Regions from separate parts of the Homo sapiens genome. Here region 2 is linked to region 1. The links come from fine-mapping of genetic effects on gene expression. A gene starts in region 1. The other region holds a variant in brackets. All regions are shown on one strand. Distances are from middle to middle. Region 1 holds the start of ASB2 (ankyrin repeat and SOCS box containing 2). Region 2 overlaps ASB2 (ankyrin repeat and SOCS box containing 2).

Region 1 (8,000 bases):
GGAGGCTGAAGCGGGCAGATCACCTGAGGTCAGGAGTTCGATACCAGCCTGGCCAACATGGTGAAACCCCATCTCTACTAAAAATACAAAAAAAATAGCTGGGCGTGGTGGTGGGCACCTGTAATCCTAGCTACTTGGGAGGCCGAGGCAAGAGAATCGCTTGAATCCAGAAGGTGGAGGTTGCAGTGAGTCGAGATCTCACCACTGCGCTTCAGCCTGGGCAACAGAGCAGGACTCCATCTCAAAAAAAAAAAGAAAAAAGATGGAATCTACCAATTGTTGGTAAGGATATAGAGTGACTGGAACTCTTATGCCTGGTTGATGGGAGTGCAAACTGACACAACTTTGGAAAGCCATGTGACAGTTTCACTCAAGTTGAAAGAAGACCTAAACTCTGACCCAGTGATCCCCATCCTAGGTGTATACCCAAGAGAAAGGAGTATGAATATTTACCAAAAGACATGTACTAGAATGTTCATAGCTACACTCTTCATCATCGCCCAAAACTGGGAACCACCCAGATGTCCATCAACAGTAGAATGAATAAATTGTGATATATTCATAGCATGGAATACTACACAGCAATTAAAATAACAATCTACAACTCCATGAAACAATATGGGCAGGTCTCGCAATGTGTTGTTAAATGAAACGAGACGCAATGATTTCATTCACATGAAGTTCAAAGGAACCTGTCCTGCTAGCAGTCAGGAGAGTGGTCACCCCTGGCAGGAGGTGGTGGGTGGTGGGAGCTCTTGAGGTGCTTGTAATATTCAGATGTTGGGTGTGTCCAGTCTGTGAAAATGTACTGGGCTGTACATATGTGAAAGTTGCACTTTTTTGTGGGTATACTGAACTTTAATAAAAAGTTTTTAAAAATCAGTCCTGTTTGGGCCTCGACACAGATTATTTAAATCAGAATCTCTGGGGTGGGGCAGGCATAGGTAAGTGTAATATGATTCTAATGAGCAGCTAGGGCCAGATCCCAGCACAGTTCTCTTTCCTCTGGGTCACACTGCCTGCCCTCCACAGGCTCGAGTCAGATGCTTGAACGCTGTCCCTGCCTTTGTCAGGAGAGTGTCTGTGCTTTAGGACATCAGCGTCTGATCCCATGGGGCATGGTTCCCACTGGCATGGCTTTCAATGTGTGAATTATTCTGCCCCCAAATTGCCAGGTGATCTCAGAGAAGGCACAGAACCTCTTGGGGCCTGAACTAGTAAATGAGGGCTCTGAACACCAGGATAGCCAAGAGTCCCTCCAGTTAGAGGGACCACAATTCCCCTGTAAGACAGAATCTCAGCCAAAAGGAGCTTCTGGTCTGATAAACCCAAGAACTGGGAAATGACTTGGGACTACATTCTTTTGTAAAGAGTGAGGTAAAAAAAAATTTAGTTTGAATCTGTTTTTCTTCTTTTAAATGGAAACAAAGACAAGTGGAAAGTCAGAAAAAAGTTCACGGGTAGCACACGAGAGCTGAGGAGCATGCAGCTGAGACCGCAGTGAATATTTGGTGAGTGTCTGGGTTGATTATTACTACATATCAAACTACCTCAATCCCCAGTGGCACGAAACAATCCTTTTATCATAGCTTGTGGTTTATGGGTCAGGAAGTTGTGGGTGGTTTGTCTCTGCTCCACGTGGCATTAGCTGTGGCAGCTGCAGGTGAAGGATCCACCTCCGAGAGGGTGTCTTCACCCCTCTGCCTGGTGCTAGATGCTCTGGGGGCCCTGGGTGTTGCTTGCTTGGACTTCCTCACAACATGGCAGCTACAAAGCATCTCATGACCTAGCCTTGGAAGTCTCAGGACATCATTTCCACTGCATTCTATTGTTAAGTCCATCACTAGGCCACCCCATATTCAAGGGGAGGGAAGGAATAGACACATCTTGGATGGAGTTTGGGGTGTGTATGTGTGTGTGTGTGTGTGCATGTGTGCATGCCCATGAGGCAGAGGGCAACCTAGGAGGGGCCTGGCCTGGCCACAGCCCACCTTCCAGGTCAGATTGGGAAGGGGCAGGTGGTGGGCAGGAAGTAGAGGAACCTGTGTTTTGCCTCCAGCAAGGAGCCCAGGAAAGCAGCCCGGCCTCGGGGAGCCGTCCCACAGAGACGTCTCTCGGGGAACATCCTACTGGGTAGCAGAGTCTCCAAAAAGTAAAAAGAATCTGACAGCCCCTTCTCTGCCCTTCTCCTACACTCCCTCCATAGCACATGGGTCTGGAAGGGGCTGAACTTGAGCTAACTTTGAGGGCCACCCAGCCACAGTGGCCTGGGAAGACTGACCCAGCTGGGGTGATGAGCAATTTGGCAGGTACCAGGGAAGCTGGGGGACTGCCTGGGGACCACTGGTGTCCTTCCCATCTTTAGCACCAGTCAGACCTCCAGAACCTTGACTCAACCCCGTGGCACCTTGTATACTGAGATGTATTTCCTTGTGGAATATTCGAAGTGCGTGTAAAGGCATCCTGAGGTTTCCTGAGTTTGAATCAGTGAGAAATCATGCTGTGGCCATCATAAATCCACATCCTCCAAGGGGAATGGGCCACTGAAACAAAAATGATTCTCCCCTTAGAGGAACAGACCAAGTCATGTTTCTGGACCCCTAACTCTGAGGCATGAGATGTGAACACACGGGTGGGAGAGTAGGTGCCTGGCCATGTCCTGTCACATCCCGGATGCTCAGTGCATGTGGCTGTGTATGTGTTGTCTTTGACATTTGACCTATTCCAGAAATGGGACGTTCTTCCCTAGACCAGGAGGAAGGGCTCTCTTCTGTTGTATATCTCTGCCCAGGGCTTGCCCGCATGCCTCTGTGTTTGTTTGTTGGCTCATTTGTACCCTGGCCCTTTGTATCCCCAGCCCCACCCCACAGTATCCAGCAGCCAGACACCTGCTATCCCCAAATGCTGCCACAAGCTCAGCACCAAACCTTGATTTCTCCAAAGCCCTTTTACGTCAACTCCTTCATCTCCTCTCTCCCCTTCTTCCCTTCTCTTTCACTCCATCCTCTTCCTTCCTGCTGTCTTGCCTTCCCTCCTTTGTTGCCTTTACTTCTCCTCTTCCCCTTTCTTCCTCCTCCCTTGCTCCTCACTCTTTGTCTCCCAACTATGCGTCTCCTCGTCCTCGTTCCCTGCCTCTGTCTCTGACCCACTGCATCTCTCTCCTGTCTGGCTCTCCCCTGGGTAGTTCCAGAAACATACCCATATATGGCCTCCATGTCAAGGATCACAAATGATGACATCACGTGAGGGCCAAAGCTCCGGGATCCTCTCTGAAGTGAGAGTCTGTATTCGATGCACCCGGAGGAACGGAAGGCAGGATTGCAGCTTCCTCAGTGCAACCTCCAAACAGGAAATCTGAGATGTATAACATCTTATAGTTTGGCTTGTCAACGTTGGTCATGCGGTGGCCCCAAAATAAACTCCCTGCTTCAAAGGACAGCGTTTCAGAACTGCCTGGCAGAGCAGCCAGAAGCTTGGGGCCAGGGCAGAAGGAAAACTCGGGGAGCATGTTCTGAATTAAGACACTTTCAAGAAAATCCTTTGTATTACCCCTGAATTGTACCCTTGTTTCAGAGCCTAACAGGTAATGCATGCTTTCAACTTTCTTATACAGATCTTGCAAAAGATTCTTTGGCTGGTGGGGATTTTCGGCTGCAGTACTTACTGGAAACCGCTTGTAGTCAAACTGTGATGTTGCTTTTCCCTCTCTCTCGTATTTTCTTGAGTTATACAGCACGCTGGTGACTTTCGTTTTGGATGCAATGAACAGAGACTCAGCAATTTGCATGTACTTACCCATTCTTCTGGAGGACTCTGGCTCAGAATATCACTCTGCTGTGCACTTCTAAAAATGGAAATGCAAAAGGACTTATCAATGATGCTATTGTTGGGTCTGTAGGTCTTGGGCGGTATCTGTGTCAGACAAGTGACTTTCAGAAATGCTTTCAGGCCAGGCGCACAGATAGAGGTTTTCATGAGTGGGAGTTAATTTAATGTAGCTGTTGCAGAGTGCCTAGGCATGCACGGTATTGTGGGAGACCATAGCAGCCAAGGTGCCATGTGCTCTGCTTTCAACTGTTTGGGGATTAGGAGAGGAAATGGAGGAATGTTATTTATGTGAGATCCAACAAAGCTGTGGAATGCAGGGATGCAAGAATACCATGCATGTGTGTGCACACGCATATGCATGACACATTTAAGGAGGCCATGGCCTTTGAAAGGATGGGTGGGATGCCTCAGGGTGGAAACAGAGACCTCCAGGTGGAGGAGCAGCTTGGGCAAAGGCAGGGAAGTCAAGGGACCTGGGGTGATGATGGAAAGTGAAATGTGGCTCTGGCAAAGGGTTCTGCATGTGAAAAATGGGGGTGAGGCTAGAAGGGGAGGCCAGAGGGAGAGGCACATCCTTCCAGGCCAAGCAAGAAGTTGGAACACTTTCTGAGAGTTTTTGAGCAGAGGACGGCATGCACATAGCCACATGCATTGAGCATCTGGGATATGAAGGGACACAGCCAGGCACCTACACTCCCACCCGTGTGTTCACATCTCAGGCCCCAGAGGTGGAGGCCCAGAAACATGACTTGGTTTCTGGTGCCTCTAGGTGGAGAATCATTTTCATTTCAGTGGCCCATTCCCCTTGGAGGATGTGAGATTTGGCTTCGGTGGCTCTTCGGGAAGCCAGGGGTATGCACTGGAATGAGGAGGCAAGGAGGCTGGTGACTCCTAGGGAGGGCAGGTAAATGAGGAAGGCCTGAAGCAGGGCAGAAGCTGAGCCCCTGCACAGGACAGGAATGCTCTTCTGAAGATAAGCTTGTTTCGTGAGGCGAGGGCTTGAGGGGGCTCAGAGGGACGCAGGCAGAGCCAGCTGGGGCCAGCACCCCCGCCACAGCCCTGACCTCTGCCTGGGCAGAAGCACCATGAGGCAGACAGTGGCAGATGCTCGAGGCACTTCCAAAACAGTTGGACGGGTCCTGACAGCTGGTGGCAGGCCCATGTGCTGCACAGCGTCCCCAAGAAGCTGGCAGCAGCTCCGCTGGGTGCCATGCTGGTTTGCATCATCTGTTCTTGCACAAACAGGCCGGGTCATGAGTGCCTTGTGGTGGCGGGGGTGGGGGACACTGTCTAACCCACGCACGGTGACCTCACAGTGAACAACAACACAGGCCATACCAGCAAGCCTTTGTTGAGCACTGGCCCAAGCTTGTGTGCAGATTTCTCTCACTGACTTCGGTCAAGGCTACCATGAGTTACAGGTGATCGTTACTCCCATTTTCAGGTCTGGAAACAGGTTATGAGAGCTTAAAAGTCTTGCTTAAGGCTGGACGGCTGCAAGTGTTGGAGTCAGGAATCTGACCTTTTGGTCTGCAAGGTCCACATTCAAAGCCACAGCGTCCTGTGGCCTCTCAAGGTACTGTGGCAGTGGTAAACAGGACCATCGTGCACCCAGGGGAAATGTCTCTGGCACACTCAAGGCATCATAAGGTGCCCGTATATTGTGGACAGGCTAGATCCAAAGAGCCTTCCCAAAGGAGGCACAAAAATATCTCTGGGCCTGCCCAGTGTCCTTCCATTTCTGCGCTGCAGAGGATCAGGCTGCCCACAGGAGCCAGCTGTCACAGGAGTGGCTTGTGTCTGTGGTTCTCTTTCCTTAGCACCATTGTTTGGAATAATTAACGCCCAGGAATATAAATGAAGTTATTAAGAGCTTTGTGGTTGGGAGGAATGTTTTTGGGGAGGTGGTGCTGAAATAAAGGTAAATTGAAATTCCTAAACTATCTGTTTTTTAAAAAGAATGGGACATAGAGGAGTAAAAAAGGAGAGAGGAAAGCAGAGAAAAGAGAAGAGAAAGATTTAAATGGAGGCGGGGTCAGGGGAACTCAGAGGAGAGAGGATAAAAAAGGAAAAAGAACCTCGCCGATTTGGGTGAGATCTAACTTAAAAGATTTCCAGCCAGCCCTGCAGGTGAGGAGGGGCTATGGAGGATTCCCCCTGCCCTGCCTGAGCCTTCCCGCTCTGCTGCCTGGAGTTAAAGCCTCCAGAACCCCCTGTGTCTTCTGCCACTAAGGAACCAAGGTGAGGGTCCGCCGTCTTTGTCTGCCCAAAGGACAGAACAGGGCTAGGCGGGCTGTGCTAGGGCAGGGGTGCTGGGGAGGCTCAGAGGTGGACTGACCAGCCCCGTCCACCCCTGTCACCCCCACCTTTGGTCACTGGCACAGATGGCAGATCCTGGCATTGGTAGTGCCTGGGCAGAATATGGGTCAGGGGCCTGGAATCCTGTGTCCTGAGCTGTGAGTGTCTGAGCCACACAGATGCGGGGAGGGGCCAGCCTCTGGCAGGGCCAGGAGGCAGCAGAAGGGCCCTTCACTCAGGAGGTGGAGACGAAGGTCACCCATGGGCCTGGAGACTCAATAGCTCAGGGGCCCAAAGAAGTAAACTGGAAGCTTGACTTTTGTGGGTGCTTTTCTTAGCTGGTGGTGTGGGCACTGCCGCAGGTAGTGGGCATGTCCTGTGCAGAATGGATGCTCATCATTGCAACAGGGCACTTTCCACATTCAAAAAACCTTCTACAGGGAGGTTTTTCCTGTGTTTTTCCTTCTTCCCTCTCTTCCTCTCACCATCATTCTTGCTCTCTTTTTGGAGTGGCATCCTCAATGTACATCAATAAGTAAATAAATTACCAAGACTTTTCGTTAGGGTCTTAGACTCTTCGGGAGAGATTCACCAAGATTTGGATCAGCAAGAGGCGCTCCATTTCAGATGCAGCCTCAGTCTCCTCCTCTATACAATGGGCACAGAGTGTCTGCTGGCGTGGGAGCAGAGCCAGCTTTGGACAGGTTCAAATCCCTGGTTGTCACCTCCTACAGGGTTATGTAGGGGCAGTCACACCCCTACTCCATACAAAGAGAAGAGCCCTGTCTTGTGGAGTCAGCTGGGGCCTGCAGCCCTGAGCACACCTCTTGAGTCACCTCCAGCAGCCCCAGCCCAGCCTTGGAAGCCCCAAGGCCCTGGCACCCGAAAGCCGGGAGCTTGAAATCAGCATCAAAAGGTCTGAGATGACGCAGCCGGTGGTGGTGGTGGCTGGGGGTAAACTGGAAGCTTGGCCTTTGTGGGTGCTTTCCTTAGCTGATGGTGTGGGTCTGAGCAAAGGCTCAAACTCCTAGCAGCTGTGAGGCCCTAGACACCAGGCCCCAGGGCAGCCAGAGGCTTGAGAGCACTGCCCCCATGGCCAAAGGCCCACCCTGGCTACGACTTGGCCACTCATAGGGGTCAAGGGCAAGGTGGCTGGGATTCCATCCCCCCTTCCTTACCAAGGTCAGAGCATTTCTTAGCCAGAGCAGAGATGAAGCCTCCAGAGGGATGAGGTTTAGGGTCACGGAGCAACTGACTCCTTGCCATGCCCTTAATGTTGTGTCAGAGGGCCTGATGAAGACGGCGCAGGCTGACGTGGTCTCAACCTCTGTACCACATACATTCCAGGCCTTAGTCTCCTCATCCGCGCCATGGGAAGACCACTCTTCTCCCTAGTACTGAAAAAGTAAAATGAGGCAACCTATGAAAGTGGCCTGGATGGAGACAGGACAAGGACCCACAGGCACCAGCTTAATTTTTATTGATTAGGTTCTAAAACAACAGGACCCGGGAAGGGAAGAGAACAATGTCCTACACCTCCGAGCACTCCAGCTGGAAGCGTTTCCTTGGGTTTCCTAGGACCACCCTGGATCCTGGGGGGAAAGGCAGATCAGAAAGATAAGTTTTGGCAGAAGGAGAGAGCATTGCAAGGAAGGAGGTCGAGCGCCCTGGGTGCCAAGGAACAGCCCAGTTCCTGACTCCTCGTGTGTCCCCAGGCTAGCCCAAGCAGCCAGGTTTCAGGATTGCCTTAGCTACGGGTCATGTGATATTTGGGAGACCTTGAAGCTTTTGGAGTAGATTTATAGAAAGTATGTATATGTGTGTATATTATATATATAATATATATTATATTATTAATATAAAAATATATAATT
Region 2 (8,000 bases), 23 kb after region 1:
CTCCAGGTCCACTGCACCTCCTGAGAGTTCGCCGGCCCGGGCCCCAATGGGCTTGTTCCAAGGGGTCATGCAGAAATACAGCAGCAGCTTGTTCAAGACCTCCCAGCTGGCGTAAGTGACTCCTGTCTGGCCCCAGGACCATCCAAGTTCACTCCGCTAACTGGGATGGCAGGGAGGGTGGGAAGCAGGCCCACAGCCCCCAGGAGGGCAGAGGGCACTATGGAGGCACCTGCCAGGCACGCTCCTTCTAGGGGTGCCCCCCTGGGGCCCCACTGCTCCTGCTGAGATGGGCTTGGTGGCCACAGACTTCAGTCCTCAAGGAACTTCCAGCCAGGCATGCTGGTGATCCCCCCCTCAGATGCCCCCAGCATGGGACCTGAGTGCTGGAGGAGCCCCATGGGGCTCTGAAACTGGGGACCCAGCACGAGGGAAATTGGGGAGATGGCCTTAGAACCCCAGAGGCCCAGGAGAGCTTGGAGTTGAACTTGATGAGTTGGCTGCACCCTTCTGTTTGTCCCAGTCTCACTTTCCCCCATGCCATCGCTGTGGGTACATCCAAAATGCCCACACCCACAGCCTTTGTTTTGTTTATTTGCCCTTATTTGTGAAGTGCCAGGTGCTAAAATCCAGAAATAATCTAAGCTGCAGGGGCTCTGTTTGCCTGGCACCAGGGGGCAGGGCTAATGCGCTCCTTAGAAAATAATTCTGCCTCCCTCCCCTCTCTGTACCCCTGGAATAGTGACCCCGGAAGCAGCCAAAAGCAAAAGAGGGACCCTATCACTGGAACTGCATTTCCTCACTCAGTTACGTTGTAGAGAAGGGAGGAGGCAATTGGCCAATATTTTCTTTCTCCTTCCCAGCCTTTTTCAAATCCTGTCGCCCTCCACTTCCTTGGTGTGGTGGGTGTGTGGAGTGGTTGACAATCTGGAAAAGGGAGACCCAGAGCTGGTCTCAGCTACTGCCACCTCCTGCATGACTGCCTGAGAGTCGCTGTCCCCTCTGAGTCTCCCTTCTCTGCAGGACACGGCTGGAGAGGGCAACGTGACCTCTAGGGTCCCGTCCAGCTTACTACTCTGATGGCCTGACACCCCCAGAACCCTCCCCCACTCATAGGGCGGGGACTTTGCCTGAGGTCATGGAGAAGCTGTGAATATGTGGGCTGAGGGCTCCAGGGTCCTTGCATCACAGCTGGAGAGACCCAAGCTGGGCGGCAGGTCCTGAAAGTGTTCTCACGACACTGCACCACGCCCTGCTCGCCAAGGCCACGAGAAAAGCCAGCCCTCCTCCCTTCCACTTCAGCTGGGGTCCCTTTGGAGACACTCCAGGAAAAGGGGGGCACATACCCCCACTGGGCTTTTCCTGATGCTGACAGGGGCTGCTCTGGCTGTTCCTAAGTGGAACTCGTCAAGGTGGCAGTGACGGTGCTGATGGGGACCTCAGGACTTATCTGATCAGTTTCCCATCGTCCTTGCTGGGTCTGTTGCTTCACCGGCATCTGTGCTCTGACACCATTAATAACCACAGAGTCTGAGAGTCAGGAGGAAGTGCTGCTCACGCTGGAGGAAGTGGCTGGGAGAGTGCAGGGGCTGGTGGCAGAGACCGCCCAGAGCCCATCCTAGCCCAACATGGCGTGGGTGTCCTGGGAATGAGGCCTGCCTCCAGCCTCACCTTCTCCATCTGGGAAATGGGACTATTGATGCAGAAGCCTCCCCAAAAGTGGATCTGAGAGGCATAGACATCGTGGTTCTCACGGACTCTCCAAGGATGAGGTAGGGAGCTCAGTGAATGAATGAAGGAAGGAAGGAAGCAATGAATGAACAAAGGGACTTTAACAAGCCAAGCAAGGAACGGCTTCACTTTAGCCCTCAAATCTTTTTGACATTCAGAAGTTTTAAACTGTGAAGGCTTCAAATTTATTAATCCTTCCAGTATATATTTTTTTTCTGCAGCTGGATGTACTGGGAGTAGGAATAAGCGACAGGGCAAGGAGAGGAGTTGGAAGACCCCAGAGATATGCTCAGGGTTAAGAGGGGGCCCCCGAGATGGGCGTGCCTGGTAAATGCTAGAGTGCTATACTCAGGGAAAGCATTTAATTATCACAAGTGCCTCACATGTGGGTGGTTAGCCACCCTCTAGGAGGCTGGCATTGTGTGCCTGAATCCTCTTGGTAGAATTGGTTTTGGTATAACATTCCCGGCAGCCATGGAAAGCCACAGAGATGGAGGGATCCCCCAGTCCTCTTGCAGCCACTGGGCTGCAGGGGGCTGAGTGCTCATCCTGGAACCAGCAGGGACGAGGACCGAGTGACTCCACTGCCAGCACTCCTGAGAGAGAGGCCCCCTGGCCTGGCCTTGGCCTGACCTTGAGGACTGACCCACTCCTTCCTCTCACAGGCCTGCGGACCCCTTGATAAAGGCCATCAAGGATGGCGATGAAGAGGCCTTGAAGACCATGATCAAGGAAGGGAAGAATCTCGCAGAGCCCAACAAGGAGGGCTGGCTGCCGCTGCACGAGGCCGCATACTATGGCCAGGTGGGCTGCCTGAAAGTCCTGCAGCGAGGTGAGGGCTGGGCTCTGACGGTGGCAAGAGGTGGGAAAGGGACTAGGGGAAGGGCTGCCGCTCCTGGGGCTTCATGTTCTTTGCCCACAATCATCTTGGGAGAAGGGCAGGCAAGGCTGTCACTTTCATTTGTCAGTTAGTCATGGAGTTACGAGAGGGGAAATGAGTTGTCCCCACCCCCTGCTGCCACCTCTCCAGGCCTCCAAGGACAGGAGAGCCTAATTCCTAGAAAAGGAATGAGGGAGGGCTGACTTTTAGAAGAACCACTGCCAACTTGTTCCAGAATGTCCCAGGGGCTGATTTGGTGTGAAAAATACTGCAGCTGTGCCTGTGCCCGGCCAAGGCTATCCCCCACCTGCTGTGGGACCGCGGGACAGCCGTGCCTCCTCTCTGAGCCCTGTCTTCCTACTGAGCCAGGTTCAGAAGGGCAACTCCTGCAGGCAGGTGTCACCTCTGCCCTGAAGCAGCACAGACCCCACACGGCCCCCGACACTCCAAGAAACCATGGCATGTAACAGTGGGTTTCCAGCAATGGCTGGTGTGAGTTCGAGGAAAGGACAGGAGTATTCGAAGAGGGAGGGGCTCCATTAGGGAAGGCTTCTCAGAGGACGTGGCATCTGAGCTTGGACGTGTACGACCAGGAAGCTAAAATGGCCCTGTGAAAGGGCCAGATGAATGCAGTCTGTAGTTGGTAAATTTCAGAGGATGTCATACATTGTTCTTGAAATTGGGAGGCAATCGGGAAAGCCTCTGTGTTGCGGGGCTGAGTATCTTTCTCCTACATGAATTTCCCGGTGGGCCCTCCCTAGCGTACCCAGGGACCATCGACCAGCGCACCCTGCAGGAGGAAACAGCCGTTTACTTGGCAACGTGCAGGGGCCACCTGGACTGTCTCCTGTCACTGCTCCAAGCAGGGGCAGAGCCGGACATCTCCAACAAATCCCGAGAGACACCGCTCTACAAAGGTGAGGTCCCCACCCCGGAGTGAGCTTTCCTG[C/A]GGAAGAATCCAGAAGCTGGGTGAGCAACAGGGAATGTTGCTCCCGTTAAGTGCATAACCCCCAACGTGGCCCTGCTCAAATGCACAATTTATGTAACTGAATCATTCATTCCTGCATGTATTTTACCAACATTTTCCAACTGCATCCCATGGGCCAGGATGCTGAGGGACACTGAGGGCTTGGAGCTGAAAAGCTATAGTCCAACCTGTGCACCCTCCCAGCCCTGTAGGCACCCACACACAGAGAGCAGGAAAGGGCTTGGCAGGAGGCATTGTGGGAGCATGGGGGAGGGGCACCCAGAGGAGGGGTGCCTGAGCTGAACCACAGAGGAGGAATCACCTGCTGGCCAAGCAGCGGGAACCGCACAGGCAAAGGCATGAAGGTATGCGAGAGCATGTACCTCTGGGACATTTGTTTAAGAAAAACAAGGCCTCCTGGCTTACTCAGTACATCATCCATGGACATTTGTTGGCTGCCCTAGCAGTACCCAGAGTCAAAGTCTAAATAATCACAATAGCTAGCATTGATTGAGTGTTTAGTATGTGCCAGGCACCGTTCTCTTATGGACCCCTCATGTCCATCTGCACATGAAGTAGGCACTGCTGGTATCCCCTTTCACATATGAGGACCTAAGGCACCAAGACATTAAATGGGTCGCCCAGGATCACACAGCTTGCAAGGGGTACCCCAGTGGTTTAAACTCAGGGAGGTGGATGTCACACTGCCCTCAACTACTACATTCTAAAGCATCCTGTCCATGCCTACATGCTGAAGCAATCAGCTGGGGTCTTACAAATGATCAGGCCTTTGTACTTGGAAAAATTACAGATATCCCTGATTTCCCATGTGTCTATCCAGTGCTTGGAACAGCTTGGGCAGCAGGAACTGAGTAGTAGGTCACTGGATCCGCTGCAGACCCACCATGGAAGTGTCTTCCCTGGAATCCGTGCCTGCCAGGGCGCCATGGCTATCACCTGGAACCTCAGCTGTCCAAAGGGAGTGCCCAGGAAGCTGGGCAGCCCACAGCCAGAGCTTGGCCCTGGTCTTGCAAGCACACCTACTATGTGCCAAGCACTATGCTCATGCCTTACACACAGTCTCACTCCCATAGCATCTGCTCAAGAAGGTTTTATTCTCTCCATTTTACAGATGAGAAAGTCAAGGCTTAGAGAGGTAGAAGGCTTGGCCTATGGTTCTATTTGAAACAGTACACAGGCAGCCCTCCTCCCCCTGCTGCCAGTCTCCCTGACCCATTCCTCACTCCTCCTCCCACTGACACGGACACAGAGAAGCTTCCAGGGCTGGTTAATTTGGAAAAGTGCCCAGGTGACTCCAATACCACCTGCAGCTCCTGGTGAGAACTCTGGGGCCAGAGCCAAGGGCACGTTTGGGGTCTAGAGAGAGATGAGGCTTATAAAGGAGGTTAGAGCAGGTCAAGAAAGACTTGAGGAGCTGTACTCACAACGTGCATTTTACCCTGAACTAAATTAGTAGCCTTTGCTGGAGCAGGGGGAAGTTCAGCAGGATTATGACACCGCTGACTCCTCATCTAGAAAGATTCTTCCAGCCTTGGTAATGTGGAGGACTGAAGCAGGTACCACTGGAAGGGGAAATGATAGGGACATCCTGGGACATCCCAGGGGACAGAGACCTTCAGCCTGACTACCAGGGTTTGAATTCCAGTTCTGCCACTTAGTATCTGTGTGACTTTGGGCAAGCCACTTACCCTCTCTGTGCCTCACCTTCCTTATCTGTGAAAGGGGATAACATCACTACATCCTTTAAGGGGATTTGGGAGGATTAAATTAGTTAATCCTGTAAAATGTGCTTAGAACAGAGAGCCTGGCACAGAACCAGTACTAGGCATATGAATCAGCAAGTATTCTTGCTAATGTTAGTATCAGTATTACTTTTAGTCGCCTATCCCAGGTTCAATGCAGGGATTGGAACTTAATACACATGCAGTGGAAAGCTGAATGAGTGGATGAGTGAATGGACAGGCGAATGAATGCAGTCTCTGCTGGCCAGTTCCTGCCAGGCCCTGCTGACCATCCCTGCTTCCCCCTGAGCACAGCCTGCGAGCGCAAGAACGCGGAGGCCGTGAAGATTCTGGTGCAGCACAATGCAGACACCAACCACCGCTGCAACCGCGGCTGGACCGCTCTGCACGAGTCTGTGTCTCGCAATGACCTGGAGGTCATGCAGATCCTGGTGAGCGGAGGAGCCAAGGTGGAATCCAAGAACGCCTACGGCATCACCCCCTTGTTCGTGGCCGCCCAGAGTGGACAGTTGGAGGCCTTGAGGTTCTTAGCCAAGTACGGTGAGTGGCTAAGGGTCCCTAGGTCATGGAGTCCCCAAAGGGCACACGGGAAGGATGTCAGAGGTCAGCTCTAAGGGAAGGCGAGTTAGGGGTCATCTTGTGCGCACACTGATGGAGTGAGAGTTTCCTCCTAGAGTGCTGTGTTGAGAAAGATGCTGAGGCTGTGTCCAGGCTCAGTGGGAAGAGCGTCGGGATCCACTAGTGACATCTGCCATTAGAACAAATATGGGGGGGTCTGGCCCACGGACCACCTATTTGCCATTTATAATCTAGTCCAACATTTTCATTTTACAAACGAGGAGTCTGAGGCACAGAGTGAGGAAGTGACTTATCTATAGTCCTATAGCAAATTAATTGTAGAACTAGCTAGACTCTTGGTCTCCTGACACCCCAACCGCTTCTCTTTCCACCACATCACACTTCAGGGCCAGAAGGAACCTCAAGCAACATTTAGATCACCTCCCCCTTTTATGGGTGATGAACTCAAGGACCAGGATGGGAAAGTGATTTGTCCAAGGTCACACAGCAAATTAGTGGCAGAGCTGGGACTTGAACCCAGCTCTTTGCCCTCTTTGCCTGTGAAATATCTTAATGGGAGAAAATAACACAATACGGCCTGCATTATGATGGCCCAGTAGCAAAAGACCACGAGACATGGCAGACTTGCTTTTGGTTTCAGAACATTATATCCTGATCTTCCCCAAGAATGCCTTTGATTTCTTTTCTCTCTCCACGGGAAGTAACCCTCTCTCTAGCAACAGAGAAGCCAGAGGTAATCCAGACGCTGAGGCTGAACTGTAGGAATCTGTTGAGGACTTGCTAAGTGTGAACACAGATCGGGGCAATGGAGCTTTCCCCGTAGCCCCATGTGGTAGGTAGTATGCTCGTCCCATTTTATAGATGAAGAGACTGAGGTTCAGAGAGGTTAACTAATTGGTCACAGTCCAAGCCTGGATGCTGACCCACTGCCATCTGACTCCAAACTGCACATGCTTTGTGCTCTGCCAGCCACCCTACCCTGTGAGAGTCGGCAGCACGGGACTCTGCCCAGGTAAGCATCCATGCACTCAGCACGCGCCTGAGCAGTGGGGAACATAGGTGCAGGCCCTTCCGTGCAGCCAGGAACAAATCTGGACTGCCCAGCGTAAGAACAAAGGGGCACAGGCAGGGTCCTGGGAGCCCAGGCCGGGGGTCCTGGTGACGGACAGCATGCTCAGCAGGCAAGGGTGACCTCAATAACTCCAAACATCTGTCCAGGTCTCCCACCGACACTCTGAGTCAGGGTGTGTTCACTTTGTGGGCTGAGTCCATTTTCCAACCCAAATATTTTTCTTGTGCAAGCAGGCGGCTTTGCTGGTAGGGTCCAGGCTCTCCAGGGCACCTGCCTCTGAGAGCCCAACAGAGGGTTAGGGCGGCTCACTGGCTCTCCCTCAGGCCGGAGGCAGGACGAAGGCCTCTGCCCAGCTCCTTCCATCCTGAGCAACTGGCATTTGCTGAGCAGCTTCCCTGTGGCAGGCACTGCGCTGAGAGATGTGCTTACACTATTTTGTTTACTCCCTGCAGTAACCCCGAGGGGTAGGTACTATTATCCCTGGTCAACAGATGAGAAAACCGAGGCTCCTAAAGGCTTTCTGAGACTGCAGAGCTTGTGAGCCATGAAACAGATGCCTCAGCTGATTCTCATCTGTCGCCAAAGCCTGTGCTGTTTCCGCTGGATCAGAAACTGGTCACACCATCATCAAAAATAATAAATTACCAGAAAGCCTGAGATCAGCAACATGCTTAGAGAGATGACCTGTGGTTAGCAGATGCTTTTGATTTTAGCCCCACTGACATCTTCAAGCATCTTAGTTCCATGTCCTTCCAGAACAAGGAAGGACTGCTGAATTCTCTTTCTGCAGAGAAAGCTGTGTGCACATCAGTTCTCCCCCTCACCCCCTGCCCGAGGAGATGAAGCAGGTGTAGAAGACTGAGCTGAAGGCAGATTGTCACCAGGCCTGATTCCTCCTTCTAGCAGCATGGATTAATGTTTTCTGGGTTTTGTTTTGTTTTTGTTTTGGGAACAGGGTCTCACTTTGTTGTCCAGGCTGGAGTGCAGTGGTGTGATCCCGGCTCACTGCCG

What was found. PIP is the estimated chance that this variant, and not a neighbour inherited with it, causes the effect.
Region 2: its variant is the best candidate, but not a certain one, in a credible set for the expression of ASB2 in whole blood (TOPMed, PIP 0.74).

Annotation. Positions count from the first base shown.
Region 1 is chr14:93,972,017-93,980,016 of GRCh38, reverse strand. ASB2 (ankyrin repeat and SOCS box containing 2) reads left to right here and starts at 3,447. Exons shown (of 10, transcript NM_001202429.2): 1 at 3,447-3,583. LOC107984663 (a long non-coding RNA gene) reads left to right here. Exons shown (of 4, transcript XR_001750861.2): 4 at 1-2,592. RefSeq lists an enhancer at 4,395-4,966.
Region 2 is chr14:93,948,877-93,956,876 of GRCh38, reverse strand. It overlaps ASB2 (ankyrin repeat and SOCS box containing 2), which reads left to right. Exons shown (of 10, transcript NM_001202429.2): 3 at 7-111; 4 at 2,394-2,560; 5 at 3,370-3,525; 6 at 5,633-5,878. Among named protein-coding and RNA genes, the nearest start is that of MIR4506, 4.6 kb to the right of the region's middle. RefSeq lists enhancers at 480-1,184, 1,185-1,891, 2,002-2,979. The variant C/A (reference allele first, on the strand shown) is at 3,558.